Regions from separate parts of the Homo sapiens genome. Here all the other regions are linked to region 4. The links come from fine-mapping of genetic effects on gene expression. A gene starts in region 4. Each other region holds a variant in brackets. All regions are shown on one strand. Distances are from middle to middle.

Region 1 (2,684 bases), 58 kb before region 4:
CTCCAAAGCTAACCGTTATTATCGCCAACAGAGAATGAGCATGGGACAAACTGCTAACAGGTTCACCTTTGGGGAGGGGTCTAGTTATAGAGAGAAGAAAACTTTTTTTTTTTTTTTGAGACACAGTTTCACTCTGTCGTCCAGGCTGGAGTGCAGCGGCGTGATCTCATCTCACTGTAACCTCCGCCTCCTGGGTTCAAGTGATTCTCATGTCTCAGCCTCTCGAGTAGCTGGGATTACAGATGCGTGCCACCACCCCTAATTTTTGTATTTTCAGCAGTGATGGGGTTTCTTCATGTTGGCCAGGCTGGTCTCGAACCCCTGACCTCAGGTGATCTGCCCATCTCGCCCTCCCAAAGTGCTGGGGTTACAGGCATAAGCCACGATGCCTGGCCTAGAAAACTTACTTTTTATTTATCTGTCCTGTTTGATTATGTATGTATTTATTTTTTACAATATATGTATATTACTTTTCTAATTAAAAAAAACCCCTAGTTTAAAATTAAAAAATTAACAAACACAGAAGAATCCTCTGAAAGGTTTAAACATTTCTTGGCATTTCATGTTCCTCAAAGTAGATAAAGAAAAACAGACAATCTCTGCCCTTCTGGAGTTCCCATTCCACCTGATCTTAATTAATTCCCTCTGCAATCCTCAGGGATAATCATTTTACAGATAAGAAGACTGAGGCCGGCCAGTGGGGGGAAGTCACTTGTCCAGTCTCCCACAGCTGGGAGCAGGGCTACAATCTCCAGAGCTAGGGCTGTTTCCACCACTGCCCAGGCCAGGTCTGTGGATGGCATGTTTGAAGCTGGTGTCCCCAGGAGGAGAGAAGCAAGACGAATGAGGAGGTCTGCATGTCCAGGCTCAAAACTTCACTCTACATTATCATTGGCTCCTGTGGTGGGGAGGGCGTGATGGATGCAGGCAAGAGTGGAAACCCAGAACAAGGAGTCCAGCATGAGGGGGGCTCAGGCTCCTCGCTGCCCACTCTCAGACCTGGGTTCGGCGATGGAGGTCCCCATGCACCTCTGCCTAGAGGAGAAGCACAGCTTCAACCTCCCTAGTTGTTCAATCTCAGCTCTAGGGTAGGTAGGAGACCCCTGCCTCTCCTTAACCACCCTCCCAAATTCCCCTGCCAGGGCCTGATTTGAAGGGCAGTGCTGTTTCTTCTAGTCCACTACAGTCACTCCTCCCTGAGACAAGAACCTGAGTTCCCTATGCTGGGGCTAGGCACAGTGTCCTCAGATGCTCTGGTCCTCCCTAGGGCACCCAAGTGTCCCCATCCCCACTGTTGCTGGCCCCGGCAGAGGAGCTGCTCTGGTGGGTGGAACTGATGACTGATGGAACCCCCATGGCCACAGC[G/A]GCCAGACCAAAGCAGGAAGTGTGGTCCAGGCTGGGTCAGGCTGGCCCAGGATCTGGCAGCTCCTGGTGACCCTCTCCAGGGAGGTGGCTCTCCTTTCCCAGGACTGCCCGGTCAGGAAGGTGAAGGGAGGCAGAAACAACACAAAGGATTGGAGGGTTCTTGGAGTCTAAGATCCCAGAACACAGATGAACATGGGCCAGAAATGGTCAGCGATTTAGAGACACACCAAAGAGAAACCCTGAGAGACACACGCCGGAGCAGAGACTTTGTGAGAAACGCTCACACAGGGGTGGTGATCAGAGGCAGAGACCCAGAGGAAGGGAGAGACCCATGCAAACGAGGGATCTAGAGGGAAACACACAGCAGGACCTCAACGGATCCACAGATCAGCCTCAGACACACCCCCAGTCCCAGCAAGCCACCGTCCCACAGCGCATCCCCCAACAGGAGGCCACTTGTACAGTGCGGGCGGGCCGGGGACTCGCGCACAGGACGCACTTGGGGACCGGAGGAGCGCCGGGCACAGCAGCGAGAAGCGCACACAAAGAGACAGCCCGGCCAGCGGGAGCAGGCTCCGCCCGACCGCTCCGAGACTCCAGACCACCCCCCGCCCGGGCACACGCACCAGACACACACACAGAGACACACGCAACCCCACCCGCACGCCCTGGGACCGCGCCCCGCCGCGCCCCACCCTGCCCCGACTGCCTGGGCACGCGACGCTTACCAGCTGCAGGCAGCAGAAGGCGACCAGCGTGCAGCGCCCGCTGCACTTGCCCATGGCTCCGGGGGCTGCGCGGGCCGCACGCCGCGGCGCCCTTCTTGCTCCGCGGCCGCCGCCTGCTCGCGCCGCGCGGGCTCCACGTCCTCCCCGCTGGGCGCGCCGGGCGGCGGGGCCGGGCGCCTAGGGCCGGGCCCGGGAGTGTCCGGTCCCCAAGGCTGGGGCCGGCCGCCCGCGCTCCGAGTCCATGGTCCGTCCGTCCGCGCGCTGGCCCCGCCGAGCCGCGCCTCCTTTGTCTAGCGGGCCGTCCGTCAGGCGCGCCTCCTGCCCCGGGGCGGCTGGCGGGGAGCGCGGAGCAAGGAGAGCGAGCCCCGAGCGCGGCGCAGCGCAGAGCAGCACTGCCCAGCTGGGGCAGTCGCCCGGGCTCTCGTCGGCCGCGGCTTCCCGGCCCCACCACGTGGCTCCGCCGCCGCCACCGACAGGGAGGGAGTTGGGGGGAACGGCAGAGGGGTGGGGCGGGGGAGCCGCCGGAGGGGAGGGGAGAGGGATAGGGAGGTGGAGGGTTGGAGAGGCAGGGAGTGAAGTGGAAGAGTGCGT
Region 2 (2,684 bases), 23 kb after region 4:
GGAAGCAAGGTAGGAGTTTATAACTTGAAATTCAGCCCTCTGATTCTACTCTCTGCTAACACTCCACCACCTCCTAATTATAGGCTGTACATTTTTCAGACAGTAGTTTTTCATTCCTTTGTTTTCTTTTTAATGTATAGATATGAATACAAGATGACAGTTCATTTTTAGCGGGCAGAGAATTGTGGTCTCTGACTCAGGAGGAAGACTGGGGTATAGCTAACTGGGTTTACTTCTGAAACCAGCTCCTCCTTAGACTTCACCTGTGACCCTAGGCAAATCACTTGACTTCTTTAGACACAGGATTTGCGGGAGGGCAAGCTACCTCTGTCTGAGGCTGACAGTGTGAGTTTTCTAGTAGATAGCGCATGAAATGGGAATAGTATTGCAAGTGATACAAACATATATAATATATATAATGTTTTAAGTTTTTTTCATAAAGAGGCGTCTGTTGAACATTTTTTTGAGAATCCTGTTATAAATCTATAATCTTATTTATTTACCAAAACTATGTTAAGCCGAAAAGGCAGGTTCCACAGACCGGTTGTCTGCCCAGAGTGATTTGGCTAGGTAGTGGCATAGCCAAGACTAGAACCCAATCCTTCTGATTCCTAGCCCCTGGATCTTTCTACTATATCACACTGCTGGTGGATCCAAAGATTCAACTTGCTAACTTCTTATGCTAAAATAAGGTTTAATTAAAGATTTTAACATTTTAAAAAAAGGCAACCATAAGAATACTAGAAGAAAATCTAGAAGAATATTTCACTACATGAAAATTAAAAACTTCACTGCAAAAATCATTGTAATCAGAGTTAAGTTTGGAAAAAGAATTTGTAGTACATATGATAAAGAGCTAATACAAAGGGGGTATTAGGAAAAGGTGCCAAGGATATGAAAAACAACTCACAGGATAAAAAAATATTACTTGGTACTATAGTAAAAGATACTCATTCTCCGTATGACTAAAAAGTAACTTAGACTGGTAGATTCATATAATGGGATATTACTCAACAATACAAAGGAATGAGAATAAAATATTCATACATGCAACAACCTGGATCATCCCTCTCCAGAAATTATACTGAGTGAAAAAAGCTAATCTCAAAAGGTTATACACTTTATGATTCCATTTATATAACATTCTTATGTTTTACTTGAGATATGATTCACATACCACACATTTCACCTGCTTAAAGTGTACAATTCAGTGGTTTCTTTGGTATATTCAGAGTTTTGTGACCATCACCA[C/T]GATCTACTTTGAGAACATTGTTGTCACCCCAAAAAGAAACCCTGTACCTATTAGCCATCACTCCAGATTCTCTCTATGCCCCCAGCTTTAGGCAATCATTATTCTACTTTGTCTCTGTATATTTGCTTATTTTGTACATTTCTTGTAAATGGAATAATGCAGTATATAGTCTTTTGTGACTGACTTCTTTCACTTAGCACGTTTTCAAGGTTCATCTGTTTTATAATATGTACTTAATTCTTTTTTATTGCCATTACAAATTTATTGCAGTTCCATCAGTTGATGGATATTTGGGTTGTTTCCACTTCTTTAGTATTATGAATAATGTTGCTATAAATATTTGTGTACAACTTTTTGTGTGGATATTTGCTTTCATTGGGTATATACCTGTGAGTGGAAATACTGGGTCATATGATAACTCCATGTTCAACTTTTTGAGAAACTGCCAAACTGTTTTTCCAAAGTGACCACGCCATTTTACATTCCTACCAGCAATGTATGAGGGTTCTATTTTCTTTACATCTTTGTTAACACTTGTTATTATCTTTCTGGGTATGGCCATCCTAATGGATGTGCACGGACATCTCATTGTGGTTTGAATTTCCCTAATAGCTAATGATGTTAAGTCTCTTTTCTTGGGTTTATTGGCCATTTGTATATCTTTTTTGGGGAAATGTCTATTCAAATCTGATATATTTTGGCTGTGTCCTCACCCAAATCTCATCTTGAATTGTAGTTCTCGTAATCCCCATGTGCTGTGGTAGGGACCAGGTGGAGATAATTGAATCATGGGGGTGGTTTGCCCCATCCTGTTCTCATCATAGTAACACAAGATCTGATGGTTTTATAAGGGGCTTCCCTTATAAAACCATCATTCGCTGGGCACTTATTCTCCTTCCTGCTGCCCTGTGAAGAAGGATGTGTTTGCTTCCCCTTTCCCCATGGTTGTTAAGTTTCTTGAGGCTTCCCCAGCCATGCTGAACTGTGAGTCAGTTAAATCTCTTTCCTTGGTAAATTACCCAGTCTCGTATGTCTTTATTAGCAGTGTAAGAACAGACTAATACAAAATCCTTTTCTTTTTTTGAGACAGAGTCTTGCTCTATTGCCCAGGCTAGAGTGCAATGGTGCAATCTTGGCTCACTGCAACCTCTGCCTCCTGAGTTCAAGTGATTTTCATGCCTCAGCTTCCTGAGTAGCTGGGATTACAGGCATGTGCCACCACACCCGGCTAATTTTTAGTAGAGGCAGGGTTTTGCCATGTTGGCCAGACTGGTCTTGAACTCCTGTCCTCCAGTAATCTGCCCTCCTCAGCCTCCCAGAGTGCTGGGATTAAAGGTGTGAGCCACCACACCTGCCTTTTCCCTTTTAAAAATAGGGTTATTTTTGTTTTTATTGTTGAGTTAGGTGTTTCTCATATATTCTGGATACTAGT
Region 3 (2,684 bases), 62 kb before region 4:
TGAATACTCATTCTGCACCTATCATTTATGTGGCCATGGATAAGCCACACAGTAGCAAGAGACATATATAAAATGCCTAGTACAATGCCTGGCTCATAGCAGACACCAAACAAAAAGAAATTCTCATTATGTTAATTTCCCACTCAGCCCCATATTTTCCACATAAAGAAGAGCTGGAGTGTTTGTGGGAATGACCCTGATCACGAAATCCTCTAATACAGGCAGAGATGGGGCTGACGTGACTTGTCCAAGTCTCAAGGCAAATCATAGCTAGCCCTGGAGAGCACTTTCCTAGGCCAGGGACCGTACTTGGCTATCCCGGCATCAACTTGCGAATTCCCCAAACTGCCATGGGCTCGTTCGTGGGGTAGAAGCTGTTTTTCTGACTACTTTGTAAGTAAGAAGGCAGAGGCTCAGAGAGGGTGCAGGACTTCCTGGGAGTCACAAAGCAAGGCCTGATCCCAGATGTAGTGCTCCTAGCCCCTGTGCCAGATCTCAGCGAAGCTGCCATTTATGGGCTGCTTATTTAAAAACCATCCACTCACCTACCCTTATAAAGGAGGAGAACCAGGGCCATCCCCAGGTCCCCTGGAGGCCTTCTTCTCCATTCTACCCTGCTCCGCCCATCTCATAAGGGCCTCGAGGGCAGTTTGGCTTCAGTCTGTTCATTCACAAAAGGGAGTTGATCATCCCTGCCAACTCTGTCCAAAGGGGTATGAGGAACAAAAGGGGCCAGTGGCCTGCATAATTTCACGCTCCTGACTCTGATACCCGGCCCAAGGACCTCAAGCACCCGAAGCAGAACCAGACCCTCCCGAGGAAGCCGTGAGCTTGCAGCTGCAGCTGCTCCAGAGTGCAGGCCCCTGCTGGAGCCCATCTCCCTTTGGTCTTCGCCGTCACTATTGCTAATAACGACATCAATCAGGTTGACCATGTTTCACACCATTACTCGCAGCTCAGCTGGAAGCTACATCCCGCCCCCCGCCCCCACCTTCCAGAAAGCAAAGAGCTTTCTAGAAGGGAAAAGAATGAAACCAACATTTTTCTGAATACCTACTATGTGTCTGGCACCTGGCCAAGGAAGCCCTTTCTACAACTCTGTGGGCTAGAGATGACTCTTCCTCTTTTACAAAGGAAGAAACTGTGGCCAGAGGAGTGAATGCGTGTGTCCAAGGTCACACAGAGCTGGGACAGAAACAACCATGGCAGTGAT[CTAT/C]TATTGGGCACTCACTGGCTCACAGTGCAGGCACTACACATGAGGCTATCGAAATATGATCATCTTCATTTTCAGATGAGGAAACGCAGGCTTGGACCTGTCTGGGGTCAAGCACTGGTTAAACGCGAGCAGTAGAGTAGCACGGGGCTGAGAGGGTGGCTCTCTGTTCAGACAGAAGAGTCCTCGCATCTTGGTTCTGTCACTGACTAGCTTAGCGAGCTTGGGCAAACGTCACACCCCTTCGCACCTCAATTTCCTCACCTGAAAAAGGGGATAATAAACACATCTACCCCACTGTGTGGAATTGCAATAAGAAGGATGAAAGCAGTAAAAGAGCTAACGTTTATTGATCATTTAACATGCACCAGGCACTTTGCCAAGCACTTTACATATGTATGCTCATTTGGTTAAATGAGGTAATGCATATAAAGTGCTTAGCACAGGACTCCTGAAATGGGAATGATAATGATGATGATGAAGAAATTGATGGGGATTCCCTAGGGCAAATCTCACTGGTTCATCCCCTTCCAGGAAGAACAGAGTGGCCTGTAAGGTTTCAGGAAGGAGGTGAACAAGGAAGAGCTGGGTTTGGAAAGGAGAGAGAAAAGGCACGGGATTAAAAATTAGAGGGTGAATATGTTAATAATGTTGTCAAAATGATACACCAAAAAGAATTCTGGAAAGCAAGGGACCCAAGATGTTCTACAGAAAGGAACCGGATCAAGATGCAACAAAACTGCCATGCCAAAGCCAGGTGTGGTGACATGCACCTGTTGTCCCAGCTATTTGAGAGGCCGAGGTAGGAGGATCACTTGAGCTCAGGGATTTGAGGCTGCAGCTATTTGAGAGGCTGAGGTGGGAAGGTCACTTGAGCTCAGGAATTTGAGGCTGCAGTGGGTTATGATTGCCACTGCACTCCAGCCTGGGCAACACAGTGAGACGCCTATCTCTAAAAAATAAACAATAAATAAACAAAACATGCCAGTCCAGGCACCACCCTGAGTTCCTGACAAGTACAGCTGGCAGGATCCCAGCGAGCCAGACCAATAATGCCTCCCATTTTACAGATGGAAAAACCAAAGCCTAGAGTGTGGAAGAGACTTGCCCCAAATTGCAGGATGTCAGAAGCAGAGCCAGGCTTAAATCCAGGTCTTTTGCCTCTCAGCTCAGTGCCCAACTACCTGCTACTTCCCACAAAGGACAGTCCACAAAGGACAGTGCAGGGGGTCACCTGGATATGTTTGGGCTACAGTGCCACAGACACATCCCATGATATGAATCATTAAGATAATAACAATAAGCTACAGTTTAATGAGTACTCACTCTGTACCTGCCAGAGTGCTAAATTCATTATATGGACTGAGTCCTCACAACAACCCTAAGGATTAGGAACTGTTTTATATTCTCTCTATTTAACAGATGACAAAACTATGTGGCTCAGAGACGGTAAGCAACTTGCCCAAAATTG
Region 4 (2,684 bases):
TGCCAGCAGGATTTATTGAGGAGATGTGAGGACACTCGTATTTCCTCGTCTGAGCCTAAACAGGACATTAGAAGTGTGATCACTATTTCTATCTTACAAAAAATGTAGTTAGGAGCATGGTTTCTCAGTTCGAAATCTGCTTCTATCACGTACTTGGTAAGTCTGTTTTTCCATCTGCAAAATGGGTTAATAACGTTCCTAACAGGCTGCTACCAAGATCAATGGAAATTTCATATACGAAACACTTTAGTACAAGAGTCAATGAATGTTAGCTGCTATTTAGTTGTTAATAATACTAGTGCAGAGAAATAAAGGGAAAAGCAACTTGCCCAAAGTCCCAAAACGAGCCAACACAAATCATTTCCCTTTTTTCTTCCCTCCCTCATTCATTCATTCTACACACTCTTCGGAATTTTTGTTCTATGCCAGATCCATGTTAGAGTCAGGATGCTTAAACCCGGGTCAGGGTTTTGAGCCCAAGGTCCTCAACTCTAATTCTAATGCTATCTCAGGGCAGTCGAGAGGCTGAAAACGGGCGCCAAACGGGGGAACACGTACGCAGCATTCGCAGGCTATGGGGAGCTTTTACAGTGTTTATGTGCTTTAACTCTGCGTAGAAACTCTCGTTCTGCCCCCGCAATGCGGGAAAGGGTCAGGGATCACCAGATACAGCGCTCTGAGGGGAGGAAGATGAGCTGAGGGCCAAAGGCCGCCTGCTTCTTCACTTACCGCTTGCAGCAAGGCTCCCGGCGTCGCCTGCTGCTGCCCGGCTCCTGGGCCAGACCCCGCTCCCAACAGCAACTCATGCCGCTGCCGCTTGACTGGAACCAGCGGCAACTCTGGGCCCTTACGCTTCTGCTGTTCTATCATGGCGGCAACCGGTCTCTTCAGCGCCGCCACTGACCGCGCTGCCGCTCTCAGGCGCCACGCAATTGGTTCCAAATTAGTCCTTCCTCCACAACTTCCAGCTTGGAAGAACCAATCGGCTTTCAATATTTCCATTTGCACCGCCCTCGGATAGTCTCTTGTTATTGGGCATATCTTTCTGACGTCATGAGAGTGCGATACCAGGATTGGTGGACGGAGCTGGCGACCGCCCTAGGCGCGCTGGGTCTTGTGGGTGGAAACGCGCTGGCTGACTGGGGTCGGCGTTTAGTTCAGCGCAGCGACTCGGGGACCTGGAGCTGACGCCTAGTACGTATGAGGAAGAACGGGGTGGGTGGCTGCCTGAGTCTGGAGGCGACGCCTCGGTTGTGCAGTCTGAACCTGCCCTTCTCAGCTGAGGGTGCTGACAGCAAGGGGTGGGAGGCGGGCCCCGAGTCCCCAGCTGTGGTAAGTAGTAGCCTGGGCTCCCTTTCGGGGCAGGAGCGGAGCCTTGGGGTCTCTGGCGGCAAGACCCAGCCCCTGCGGCTCCCTTCTTCAAGAGCGCCCATCGTGGCCAGTCCTGTGCCGGGCATTCCCAGGGAGAAAGGCCTGCGTCCCAGCCTCCTCCGGTGCCCCATTTGGCCGAGGAGGCTGACTTGTTTCTGCCACTGATTTTGCAGTTTTTGATCAGGGCCTACTGTATGCCCCCCTGAGAGAGACAGTGATGAAGGAAATGTCCGACTCCTTCTCCAGAGCACAGTCTTGTTGAGAAATTTGAGACTCATGCCCATGAACGTGGTCATTGCCTCAGTCGTCCTGCTGATATTCATTTAGCAGCGCGTTGGGGGTATGTTGTGAACCGGGCACGGTCCCTACTCTCAGGGCGTTTAACTCTGGTGGGGAAAACGTTAAACAATGACCTCACTAATACATGGAAATGCCTCCTACTGCTGCCTGATGCTATGAGTGCCTGAAATAAGCAGGAAGGTTTTTCAGAGGAAAAGATGCCTGCGCTGGTAGCTGCAGGAAGTGTTGTAATTAATTAGGTGAAGAAGTGAAGGCAGAACCTTCCATAGAGAACTACTTGTTCAGAGCCCTGAGGCACTTGGGAGGAAAATGACTAAAAGCACAAAGAGCCAGTGTGGCTGGTACAAAGAGAATGAAGGGAGTATGGTACAAGATGAAGCTGTACGTGATAGCGGTCAGACCTTGCAGGAATTTGTAGCTTTTATTTTAAAACGGATGAGATACCACTGAGCCGTCTTCCCCCAGTGGGGTGTGGTGGAGGAGGGGACTTGATCCCTCAGGCTCAGTGGTGTGAACAGACGGGGGTTGGGGAAGCCCTAGTCGATGTATGTGGACCACTTGGGATATGCAGTAATCCTGGTCAGAGATGTCAGTGAGGACTGAGATATGGGTGGAACTGCAGAGAATTGGACAGATTCTAGAGGTATATAGGAGGTAAAATGGGTGGGACTTGGTGATGGGTTGATTTTAGGGAGTGAAGAGAGGAATCAAAGGTAACTCCTAGGTTTCTGGCTTATGTAGTTGAATAGATGGTGGTACCATTCACTCACTATCACGGAATCCCTCAAGCTGGATAGGGAACACTAGAAGATGATTAGAGACCAGTTTTTTTTTGTTTTTTTTTTTTTTTTGAGACAGGTTCTTGCTCTGTCGCCCAGGCTGGAGTGTGGTGGTGCAACCTTGGCTCACTGCAACCTCCACCTCCCAGGTTCAAGCAATTCTCCTGCCTTAGCCTCCCCAGTAGCTGGGATTACAGGCGCCTCCACTGTGCCCGGCCAATTTTTGTATTTTTG

Alleles and levels. Alleles are on the strand shown, and positions count from the first base shown. SD is a standard deviation of normalised expression in the study named. Not every link is listed here.
For the expression in fibroblasts of the gene that starts at base 1,151 in region 4, allele CTAT in region 3 goes with a higher level than allele C (moderate effect, 0.43 SD a copy in GTEx).

The links. PIP is the estimated chance that this variant, and not a neighbour inherited with it, causes the effect.
Region 1: its variant is the best candidate, but not a certain one, in a credible set for the expression of ZCCHC17 in whole blood (INTERVAL, PIP 0.64).
Region 2: its variant is the best candidate, but not a certain one, in a credible set for the expression of ZCCHC17 in whole blood (INTERVAL, PIP 0.68).
Region 3: its variant is the best candidate, but not a certain one, in a credible set for the expression of ZCCHC17 in fibroblasts (GTEx, PIP 0.55).

The regions. Positions count from the first base shown.
Region 1 is chr1:31,237,401-31,240,084 of GRCh38, forward strand. NKAIN1 (sodium/potassium transporting ATPase interacting 1) reads right to left here and starts at 2,487. Exons shown (of 7, transcript NM_024522.3): 1 at 2,094-2,487. The coding sequence starts at 2,147. The variant G/A (reference allele first, on the strand shown) is at 1,366.
Region 2 is chr1:31,319,158-31,321,841 of GRCh38, forward strand. ZCCHC17 (zinc finger CCHC-type containing 17) reads left to right here. Exons shown (of 8, transcript NM_016505.4): 3 at 1-9. Among named protein-coding and RNA genes, the nearest start is that of ZCCHC17, 23 kb to the left of the region's middle. The variant C/T (reference allele first, on the strand shown) is at 1,252.
Region 3 is chr1:31,233,469-31,236,152 of GRCh38, forward strand. The region is part of intron 1 of NKAIN1 (sodium/potassium transporting ATPase interacting 1); the gene reads right to left. Among named protein-coding and RNA genes, the nearest start is that of NKAIN1, 5.1 kb to the right of the region's middle. The variant CTAT/C (reference allele first, on the strand shown) is at 1,214.
Region 4 is chr1:31,295,882-31,298,565 of GRCh38, forward strand. ZCCHC17 (zinc finger CCHC-type containing 17) reads left to right here and starts at 1,151. Exons shown (of 8, transcript NM_016505.4): 1 at 1,151-1,194. It overlaps SNRNP40 (small nuclear ribonucleoprotein U5 subunit 40), which reads right to left and starts at 907. Exons shown (of 10, transcript NM_004814.3): 1 at 730-907. The coding sequence starts at 870. RefSeq lists an enhancer at 676-885.